Homo sapiens: one gene and its partners. The protein of the gene in region 3 purifies or fractionates together with the protein of the main gene of each other region. This does not show direct contact. Each region holds a gene or a part of one and is shown on either strand. Other genes may lie near its edges.

Region 1 (3,500 bases), on a different chromosome or scaffold from region 3:
GGTTTCAGCACAGAACCTGAATGCCAGGAAAAATTCCTGGGCCAAGAAGCTAAAGCTAAAGAAACCTTCCTTTTTTCAACGTTTTTTTTTCTTTCAAACTGTAGGGTCACTTTTGATTGAGGCAAAGGGGTCCTACTGTAAGTGGAAAAGACTCACTCCCCTAACATAAGTTTTCACTGTGGTGGGATGGTGCCGCCCGATATGCTTGATATGCTTTTCCTTCCACATGTTAAGCTAGGAAACCTAACAGGATGTCAGCAGGGCAGTTAACTCTGGACTCAGAGCCCTCAAGGGCATGTGGCAGAACCTCATGGACATCACAAGACCATCAGTCTGAATCCAGGTCGTGGGGGCTGTCATAGCCGAACTCCTTCTGCACATCCAGAGGGTACTTGCTCCACATCCGCTGTCTGCTGCTGCCTCTTTCCTCCTCACTCAGGCTGTTGTAGTCAGCAGAGCCTAGAATGACATCCCGGGAGTGGATTCTAAATGTGATTTTCCTAGGCTACTGCAGGAGCCCCTTCTCTTCTCAGAAAGGTCTGTTTTTGTTCCCGATTGTAATGCAAAATCCTTGCTCAATAAATAAAAAAGAATATAGAATTCTTTTTTTTTTAAAGAAGGAATCACTTTCCTATCATCTAAACCAAGTTCCTTCACACTGGAGTATTTTGTCACTTCTCCCCTCCGTGGAGTATTTTGTCACTTCTCCCCTCCGTATAGGATTTTTTGTTGTTGTAAGAGTTGTAGTCATATTGTAAATATTTTTGTACCTTTCTCCTTTTAACGTGTTATTGACAAACCTCCCCAAAAGAATATGCAATTGTTTGATTCATTTCTCTGTTATCAGACACCAATAAATTCTTTTTGTTGGGCCTTCTTCTCTCTTCTTTAATATAGTTACTACGGGAATTATGTTGTCAGAGCATCTTTCTTCTTCCCCCAGGTATTATGTCTGTGTTGCATCTTTCTCAAAACAGTTGTACATGCAGCAGTTTTTTGAGAAGTTAGATAACTGATTTGTGAAAACTCTGGGCTTATTCCTACTGGCAAACCTCTCTCTTCATTGGTTTCTTGACTGGGGCAGGGGAAGAGACAATGAGCTACATATTTTACATAATCTCAACCACTAAAATTCATGCAGAACCATCTCATTTGGAGAGAAAATGAGGCTCAGTGAGGTGAAGTAACTGCCCAAGAGCCACAGCAAAGTAATGACAACTACAGATTTGAATCCAGGCCTGATGGATTATTACACCCCCAGGAGGCCCCTGGGAAACACTGGTCTTTGGGTCTCCTACAGCATGGCTCAGTTGCGGCTGGGCTGCTGGCGCTCAATGACAGAGAAGGAAAGGCAATTAAGATGCACCTGTCAACTATGCCTGCACCTCAGTCTCAGATCCTACCAGTCCCTCCCGGTCTGGGGCTGCCACCCACCTCTGGAATCCTCATCTCCATCACTGCTCTCCTCCTCTGGGTACTCATTGCGCCAGTTATTCTCACTGTTCTCGTCATCTTCATCGTCGTAAATGTCCTCTGGTTCTTGATCATCATTCACCTACACATCTCAACACAAACATGAGTCCAAGTCAAAACCTCTAAGGTTATGCTCTGGGGGAAGTTGTTAGCATACCAGCTTGAAGAGATATCATGTAAAAGTGCCCTGTGAAAAAACTGCAGACTAGTAGTTTGACTCCATTGCACAAGAGGCTATGAGAGGGAGATAATAGCCCCCTTCCACTCAGAGCCCAGCTCCACAATGATAGGACATGCTGGACCCCATGAGAAGGGAACACAGGGAAAAGAGGAGTGATGGCTCTGAGCGATTCCTTCAAATTCCAAAGGTCAAAACCAAAACCCAAGCGTAAGAGGTGCGGAAAGGCAGGAGGAAGGGCCATGCAGTGGTCCAAGGTGGGTACCTGACTGCAAATCTGTCCTAATGCAGGTGCAGGATGCAGTGCTTCTTGATTATAGTCTGAGCATGACCATTAGGTGCCACCTTAAGTTTTCTTGTTAAGCATTTTAGAATTTGAGAATAGGCTGGGCGCGGTGGCTCACGCCTGTAATCCCAGCACTTTGGGAGGCCGAGGTGGGTGGATCACTTGAGGTCAGAAGTTTGAGACCAGCCTGGGCAACATGGTAAAACCTTGTCTCTACTAAAAATACAAAAATTAGCCAGGCATGGTGGCATGCACCTGTAGTCCCAGCTACTTGGGAGGCTGAGGCAGGAGAATCGCTTGAACCCAGGAGGCGGAGGTTGCAATGAGCCAAGATTGCACCATTGCACTCCAGCCTGGGTGACAGAGCGAGACTCCATCTCAAAAAAAAAAAAAAAAAAGATAATGGTGTCAGCTAGGTGTGGTGGCTCACACCTGTAATCCCAACACTTTGGGAGGCCAAGGTGGATCACTTGAGCCCAGGAGTTCAAGACCATAAGACCAGCCTGGACAACATAGTGAGACCCTGCCTCTACAAAAAAATCAACAAAAATTGGGCATCATGGTGCATGCCTGTACTCCTGGCTGGCTGCTTGGGAGGCTGAGATAGGAGGATTGCTTGAGCCTGGGAGATAGAGGCTGCAGTGAGCTCAGATAGCACCACTGCACTCCAGCCTGGGTGACAGTGTGAGACCTTGTCTCAAAAAAGAAAAAAAAAAAAGAATAATGTCAGGACGTTAGCTTTCTTCATCCGAGGTTTCTCTACTTCTAAGGTACGAATTAAAAAATAGATTTTGTTGTCACTCATGTTAAGAATTTCTGATTTTATCGTCTTTATCTTATCATAAGCCCCATATACATATTTCCCCCCTAAGAATGGATAGCTATAAACAATAAAGGTGATGTTGCAAACCTTGTAAAATATTCATTAATGTAAAAATGATCAATCTAAGATGATCTTTCCCCAAATTCCCTGTACTATAAAGTCAGGTTCCTAAAAGGCACTTAGAATAATTTCTTCCTTTTCAGGAGGAAAAGAACTAAGGACAATGTTGTTCGGGAGTGGAGCCCAGGGAAGCAAAGCATTCTGATTAGATTAAGAGCTTAGGATGCCTCATGCCCCGTCTGCTCATGGGCCCCCTTACCAGCTCCCATTCTTGGCTGTAGGGCTGCACGGAGAGGATGTTCTCAATCCAGCCTGGAGTGGCCGTCTCCAAGTAGTAAATGTCATACACATAGTCATCGTGTTTTTGTTCTTCCTGGCGCCTGACTCCTGGTCCATCCTCAGACACAGTCAATCGCTCACGGATCAACTCTACAGAATTGCAGAGGATCACATCTGGGTCAGATGTCTGTAAAGAAACCACAGATTACACACACACGCATGACCCAAAACATGATGTTCCAAGAGGAGGAACCTATGAGTTGGGTGAAGGAAGGCTCCCTACAGTTTTTTTTGAGACGGAGTCTCACTCTGTCGCCCAGGCTGGAGTGCAGTGGCGTGGTCTTGGCTCACTGCAACCTCCGCCTCCCAGGTTCAAGCGTTTCTCCTACCTCAGCCTCCCA
Region 2 (3,500 bases), on a different chromosome or scaffold from region 3:
TAATGATAAGGAAAATCTGTTTTACAGGTGCAAAGAAGAAGAAAAATGCCAAGCCTTTAAGTTTTAAGGTCGGAGTAGGCAAAGTTATCAGAGGAGTAAGTAAAGAATGCCAATGAATCAGTAGATATTCTGGCATATGCTGCTTCTGGTATGGTGCTGTAAAGAATTAGGTTTGGGGATATAATACAAAGGAAACAGACTTTGGAGTCTGACAGATTGGGTATAATCATTGTTAGCTGATCTTGCACAAGTTATCTCGGTCTCAGTTTCGCTACATATAAAATGAGGACAGTACTGCCTACCTCAAGGTTTTTAGAAGATTAAATGAGCATAACTTGAAGTACCTAATACAGTAGGGGCTTAAATATTAGTCCCTTCCATGTGTACCCATTTTATTATTTTTCTTCATAAAGTAAGTCTTTGTCAGAATGTTTGGCCCTCTAAATTTAAGGTTCCTGTAAAATGTCTTATAACTGTTGTACCATTTACATATAATTTGCAAAGGTAAAATATCTGTCCCACTGAAGTATTCACAGAAGCAGAGTTTGTTTCTGCAGCCTTTTCACCTCATACAACATAGGCTGCAATACCAGAAAATCATTCAAACATGAGCATGCTTTAACCTACACTTATATGTGAGAGATAACAGAAAGAAACTTTGAGAAAAGAGGAAGTTAGGCTTGACCCGTACTGACCATTATACTGTACAAAAGAAGATAAAAGAGTAGGGCAGACTGTCACCTTCTATGAATCAGGTTTTCATGCTAAGGCCTGCCCATTGTGCCCATTGTTTGTTTTAAATTGTTATTCTCAGAACATCAGACATCAATAACTGAAATGCCTATTTAAATGCAGTTATAGGAACCTTCAATATATTACTCTCTGTACAATCAGTAGGTCCTAAGATATGGTTCAGACAATCATATACAGAATATAAAACATCTTAAAACTAAAGGTTTAGTTGAGCATAACTTATAATTGTTACCTGCCCCAGCCAGGCGTGGTGGCTCATGCCTGTAATTGCAGCAATTTGGGAGGCCGAGGTGGGTGGATCACAAGGTCGGTCAGGAGATCGAGACCATACTGGCTAACACTGTGAAACCCGTCTCTACTAAAAATACAAAAAATTATCTGGGCATGGTGGCACTTGCCTGTAGTCCCAGCTACTTGGGAGGCTGAGGCAGGAGAATTGCTTGAACCTGGGAGGTGGAGGTTGTAGTGAGCTGAGATCACGCCACTGCACTCCAGCCTGGGCAACAGAGCAAGACTCCATCTCAAAAAAAAAAAAAAAATTGTTACCTGCCCGTACCAAGTTGATAGCAAGTATATTATCAAATTGGGCCATTTTTCTATTTCTGTAACTTATTTGCATACTGGTAAATTTCTTCTAGTCTACCGTATTCTTTTTTTTTGAGACGGAGTTTTGCTCTTGTTGTCCAGGCTGGAGTACAATGGTGCAATCTCGGCTTACTGCAACCTCTGTCTCCTGAGTTCAAGCGATTCTCCTGCCTCAGCCTCCCGAATAGCTGGGATTACAGGCATGCGCCACCACACCTAATTTTGCATTCCTAGTAGAGATGGGGTTTCATCATGTTGGTCAGGCTGGTCTTGAGTGCTGACCTCAAGTGATCGCCCTCTTCATCTTCAGCCTCCCAAAGTGCTGGGATTACAGGCACGAGCCACCTTGCCCGGCTAGTCTACCATATTCTTATTTTCCAAATGTGACCACCCTAACTTTGTCCCTTGTGCTTTATATGATTGTTGCATTTCAATACAGCATATAATATTAGGAATATTATCCCTTTGGTGATGTGGATTTAACTGTTTGTGGAAACTAGCTTTAAGATCCAAATTTGGAAAATATGGAGAGGCCAACCCAGAAGACTTTTATTGTTTCTTTGAAAAGTTAGTTTTACCTTTTGCAAAAGATCTTAGTGCCGTAACATTTTAAAAATTGTATTTCCAAAATTAGCTGGGCATGCCTGTAATCCCAACTACTAGGGAGGCTGAGGCAGGAGAATCGGTTAAACCCGGGAGGCAGAGGCTGCAGTGAGCCAAGATCACGCTATTGCACTCCAGCCAGGGCAACAAGAGCGAAACTCCATCTCAAAAGAAAAAAAGAAAAAAATGTATTTTATGTGCCAACGTGACTCCACTATTACAATCTGGTAATCTTAAAACAATTTTACAGTGAGTACTTGCCAGTGTATTCCAATAAAAATAAACTCGTTTGTCCTGTGATGTAAAAGTGTTGCAGGTTTATGATGGTGCTAATAACTAACTGGTTTTCATAATGTATGGCATGTTACAGTTTACAAAAAGTTTTTTTTTTGTTTTTTGTTTGTTTGTTTGAGAAGGAGTCTCACTCTGTTGCCCAGACTGGAGTGCAGTGGCTCAATCCTGGCTCACTGCAACCTCCACCTTCTGGGTTCAAGTGATTCCCCTGCCTCAGCCTCCCGAGTAGCTGGGATTACAGGCACCCACCACCGCACCCAGCTAATTTTTTTATTTTTAGTAGAAGATGGGGTTTCACTATGTTAGCTAGGCTGGTCTCAAACTCCTGACCTTAAGTGATCTGCCCACCTCGGCCTCCCAAAGTGCTGGGATTATAGGTATGAGCCCCAAAAGGTTCTTTTCACATTAAAAAAGCCCTGCTTAAAATACCCTTTTTTTTCTATTGAAGAAATGGAAGACAAAGATTTAGGGACTCACTGAAGTACATTATCTTAGAATATAGTGAAATCTATAGTAATAGATTCTGTGTTTGTTTTAACATACAATCTTGTCTTGACTGTCCTGGTATTGCATGTGCTTTTTGCAAAATACCATTAGTTTTTATTTTGTTCTTGCCTTTAGTGGGATGAAGCTCTCTTGACTATGAGTAAAGGAGAAAAGGCTCGACTGGAGATTGAACCAGAATGGGCTTACGGAAAGAAAGGACAGCCTGATGCCAAGTATCCTTTTTTCCCCTTCATAATTAAAGTTGAAAAAAAAAAAACGTCTAGATCACCTTTGAGGATGTGAAAGATGCTGTCTAGGCAAACTTCTGGATCAAGAATCCTGTCCAGACTAGTCTTCCTGATCTTTAGATGCTTATGTGTCAGCACCTCCAATAGGCAATAGTATTTTCTATTGATATAAAGTTCAAACCTCAGCTAGAATTTTTGTTTCTCTTATTCAAATTCTTAACTTTCAAGACCTTAACTGTGAAGTTTAAGCTTAAACAGCAATTCTTAATGTTTTTAAGAGTTTAAGAAAAGTTACCATGCCCAGTACAAACTGTAGCAAACTACGATGCAAATATGGCTCATGGTAATTTTATGGTACAGTATAATTTCAGGCAATTAAATTCAAAGCTTAGAAATGGAATAGATGTGGGAGATTACCAGTTGTGAACTGAAGGAGACCACAGAATCAACAGTGTTAGTGTAAGCATTTATTATTACTACTAATGACAATACTCACTGATAAGTCCAGTTTGTGAACATTTAAAAAAAAAA
Region 3 (3,500 bases):
CTTTATATCAACTCTGGGGTTCTCAGTGGATCTCCACAGAGGTAACTAAGCCTCATCTCTTTTCATTCCTTCCTGGGTATAGAGATCTAGACTGCCTTGCAAAGGAGATAACAGCTTTGGAAGAGTGTAGTTGAGACAGTGAGTGGAGCTGGGGTCAAGATGATCCCACAGCTTCCCAATCTAGATTCAGAATAAACCAGAGGTCCTAATCAAAGGAGAAAAGGCCCTAGTTTCTTCTTATATCTCAAATCCTCCCAGAGCTGCTATCTAATGAAGAAAGTTAGGCAGGCACTTGTTCATTTGTGCTTAAATCTGAGGGATCTATTTGATCCAAGAGTTAACTGGCCTTCTGCTTGAAGATGGACAGTTTAACTTTTGGGGCCAAATTCACTCCTCTTCTTCCCTCATGCTCCAATTAAACTTGCCTTTTCTCAAACACAAATTTAAGGTAAACACTTAAAAATGAAAAATCCATACTACCTCCTACTTAACTCATATTTGTTTTCTACAGTTACCAGCAAACAGTAGTTTCCTACTACTTTTTCATTGAAAAATTTGAACTATATTGCAGCCAAATACCTTTTCAGATCTGACTGGAGGATATAACAATGATTTATAACACTACCTCTATGAAAAACAAAACACATTTTAAGTTCTAAATGGCAAAATGCCTATGAGGTCCTTCTTTAAGTTATGATGAGTCTAGGTCATGGGAATATCCCTGGGGATTGGAGCTGGGGGCCACAGGAGATGGAAACATTTTTTTTCCTTTCATTCTCTTCAATTTGCTCATTTGCCACTCCCCTAGCTATTATGAAAAAAGATCAACTTTACCTAACTGGTGGGGCGATGCTCTCCAATTATACCAGCTGTCTCTGCCATAAAAGGAGGAAAGGGTATGGAGGAATTAAAGATCTTTCTGAGTTGTCAATTCTTTTAATTAGAACAATACTGGTTATTATGGTAAGTGAAATAATCCCAAAATATAGAAAGTAATTCCTGCCATCCTTGCAATTTCCATTCTTCTGAGTTAACCAGTATTCAAATCTTCTACCCATTATTTTAAAATAATGTTTCTAAATTAATAGAACTTTTTATTATTTTATTTTTATTTTTGAGATGGAGTCTCGCTCTTTTGCCTATGCTGGAGTGAAGTGGTGTTATCTTGGCTCACTGCAAACTCTGTCCCCGGGGTTCAAGCAATTCTCCTGCCTCAGCCTCCAGAATAACTGGGATGACAGGTGCCTGCCACCACACCTGGCTAATTTTTGTATTTTTAGTAGAGACGGGGTTTCGCCATGTTGCCCGGTCTGGTCTTGAATCCCTGACCTCAGGTGACCCACCCTCCTCTGCCACCCAAAGTGCTAGGATTATAGGCACGAGCCACTGTGCCCAGCCTGGAACGGATCTCTATTAGTGGTTCTCCAATGTGTTTAGGTAGCACGACTGCTGGCATTAAGGAAGGAAACACCAATATTCTACTGGTGGGTATTTAAAGACGGGAACCATTCTGAAAAGCAATCTGGCAGATGGAAAAAAAAATCACATTATAAGATGCTCATTTCAGCAGTATTTAAAACAGCCAAAATCCCTGTGAACAACCTGAGAGGGATGTTTAAATTATGATCTATGCAGACATTAATAATGAGTCTATAAAATAAGGACACACACAAAGATGTTGACTGTATTTTTTTTCTAAAAAAAAAAGCAACAAGCTAGCTAGCATTTGGATTATTTGCATGAACCAAGTTTAGAAAAAATTTAAACATTCTGGTAGACTATAATACACTAAAGTGTCTAGATGGTACGTTAGGCATGTATGATGTCTATCTTCTTTTTGCTTGTCTATACCTACAATTTTTTGGCCTATCTATATCTAATTTTTCTTAAACGAAGATGTATTACTTATACAAGGAAAAAAACCCCAATTAGTTGCTATGCAACCAACTAGAATATCCAATTGAGCTCAAAATTACATCACAGTAGACACAACAAAAGAGGTCAAAAGCTGGGGAGGGGGTGCGGATCAAAAAAAGATGGAAGTTAAAGACAATCTACATTTTTTCTCAGTAAATTGGGACTACGTAAAGACTTTTATTTTGGTATATGAAATGTCACAGTCCAGCATATAGCACACCAGCATTTCGCAGGTGCATAGACTGCAAGCCACAGTAAGGAACTGCTTGGCTTTCTAACTTTGAATGAAAAACTCAGAGCTGATAGGAAGGCTGACTGTCCCCAGATGCGTGGTTAATGAGGTGCTTCTAACAGAGCGACATGTTCAGTTTACTGGAAGGATAAGAATCTCACATAAAGAACAGGTATTCTTTTCCAATTTTAGAATACAACTAAATGTGGTTTATATCTAGCTACTGCATGTCAGTGTCTTCTCATTTTACTGACAAGACCTCCAATTTCCATGGTGTATATATGGTGTATTCTAGCACTGTTCAATTTACTCTCAGTGAACTGCCAATATTTTATATAAAATATTTCCTTGTCATACAAACTATCTCCTATCCTTGTCTATAAAATGTTTTTAAATGGTAACCACCATTCTTCATGAAGATTACTTTAAAATGCCATCTTAGGCCATTTTGTTCCACTATGAGAATATACCCTGCCATAAGAGCTCTTTTGGACTTAGAAAAAAATAAATAAAATTCTGTATTTCTTTACAATCCCTCGCCCCCATCCCTTAGGGAAATGGGCATACTTGTGTTTATAAGGAATAGGGATATAGTAACAGGTGAACTGAAGAAGACCCTAGTAACACTTTTGTGTTTACCTTCTTGTCTTCCTTGGTCAGAACACACAAGAGCCCAACTGAACAAAAGTGTTACTAGGGTCTTCTTCAAACCCCAGTAATTAAAAAAAAGCCATATACACAATAAAAGCCCATCTGGTCTTAAACGTAAGAACATATTTACAATTAAACCCCTATTCGCCCTCTTCAAACACCCTTAAATCTCACTTGACTTTAAAATCATTAAGGTCAACCATGGGACACTGCTGTATATTTCAGGGCATCCTGTTCATACAACAACAGTATACCTTCAACAAGGGAAACGATTCTTCATGTTACCCCACACGACAAGTCTGCAGGATCCCAGAGGCCAAGCCTACTGTGTAACAGCTGACAATGCCATCAATTTCTGTGGTGTTTATGGCATGTTCCAGCACATCACACATAAGGTATCATGTGACTAGCTGAATGTGATTTTAAGAGAGTGATCTCCAAACTTTTCATTTGCCTTAAGGATGACGCCTCTGTGCGAAAACACTTTAAACTCTCTTTTAGAATTTCCTTCAAAATCTACAGCATTTTTTCCTGAAAAACCCTTCACTTTTAGGTCAAAGTTTTATTCGCCCAACTGGGTACCTAACTCCCACTGGTCTCAGTCTCCCTAAGGGAACCTTCCTCTACCCCCACAATCTTAGCTGGCTCCCACAACACTCTCTCAAGGCCTCATCAACTCTCCCAAGTGCAAAAAGCACCA

The links. The genes of interacting proteins can lie anywhere in the genome.
Region 1: the proteins of ANP32B (region 3) and SLC7A6OS fractionate together in Homo sapiens (co-fractionation; one large-scale study listed by BioGRID). This does not show direct contact.
Region 2: the proteins of ANP32B (region 3) and FKBP3 purify together in Homo sapiens (affinity purification with mass spectrometry, with the first as the bait; one large-scale study listed by BioGRID). This does not show direct contact.

Annotation. Positions count from the first base shown.
Region 1 is NC_000016.10:68,300,947-68,304,446, forward strand, and holds part of SLC7A6OS (probable RNA polymerase II nuclear localization protein SLC7A6OS), read right to left. Parts: intron 3,287-3,500; coding exon 3,080-3,286; intron 1,564-3,079; coding exon of another isoform or gene 1,556-1,563; coding exon 1,435-1,555; exon of another isoform or gene 1,431-1,434; intron 874-1,430; exon of another isoform or gene 460-873; coding exon 329-459; 3' UTR 1-328. UniProt on the Homo sapiens protein: Directs RNA polymerase II nuclear import.
Region 2 is NC_000014.9:45,117,482-45,120,981, reverse strand, and holds part of FKBP3 (peptidyl-prolyl cis-trans isomerase FKBP3), read left to right. Parts: intron 1-27; coding exon 28-95; intron 96-2,856; coding exon 2,857-2,954; intron 2,955-3,500. UniProt on the Homo sapiens protein: FK506- and rapamycin-binding proteins (FKBPs) constitute a family of receptors for the two immunosuppressants which inhibit T-cell proliferation by arresting two distinct cytoplasmic signal transmission pathways. PPIases accelerate the folding of proteins.
Region 3 is NC_000009.12:97,986,341-97,989,840, reverse strand, and holds part of ANP32B (acidic leucine-rich nuclear phosphoprotein 32 family member B), read right to left. Parts: intron 3,196-3,500; exon of another isoform or gene 3,026-3,195; intron 2,322-3,025; exon of another isoform or gene 2,038-2,321; intron 876-2,037; exon of another isoform or gene 1-875. UniProt on the Homo sapiens protein: Multifunctional protein that is involved in the regulation of many processes including cell proliferation, apoptosis, cell cycle progression or transcription.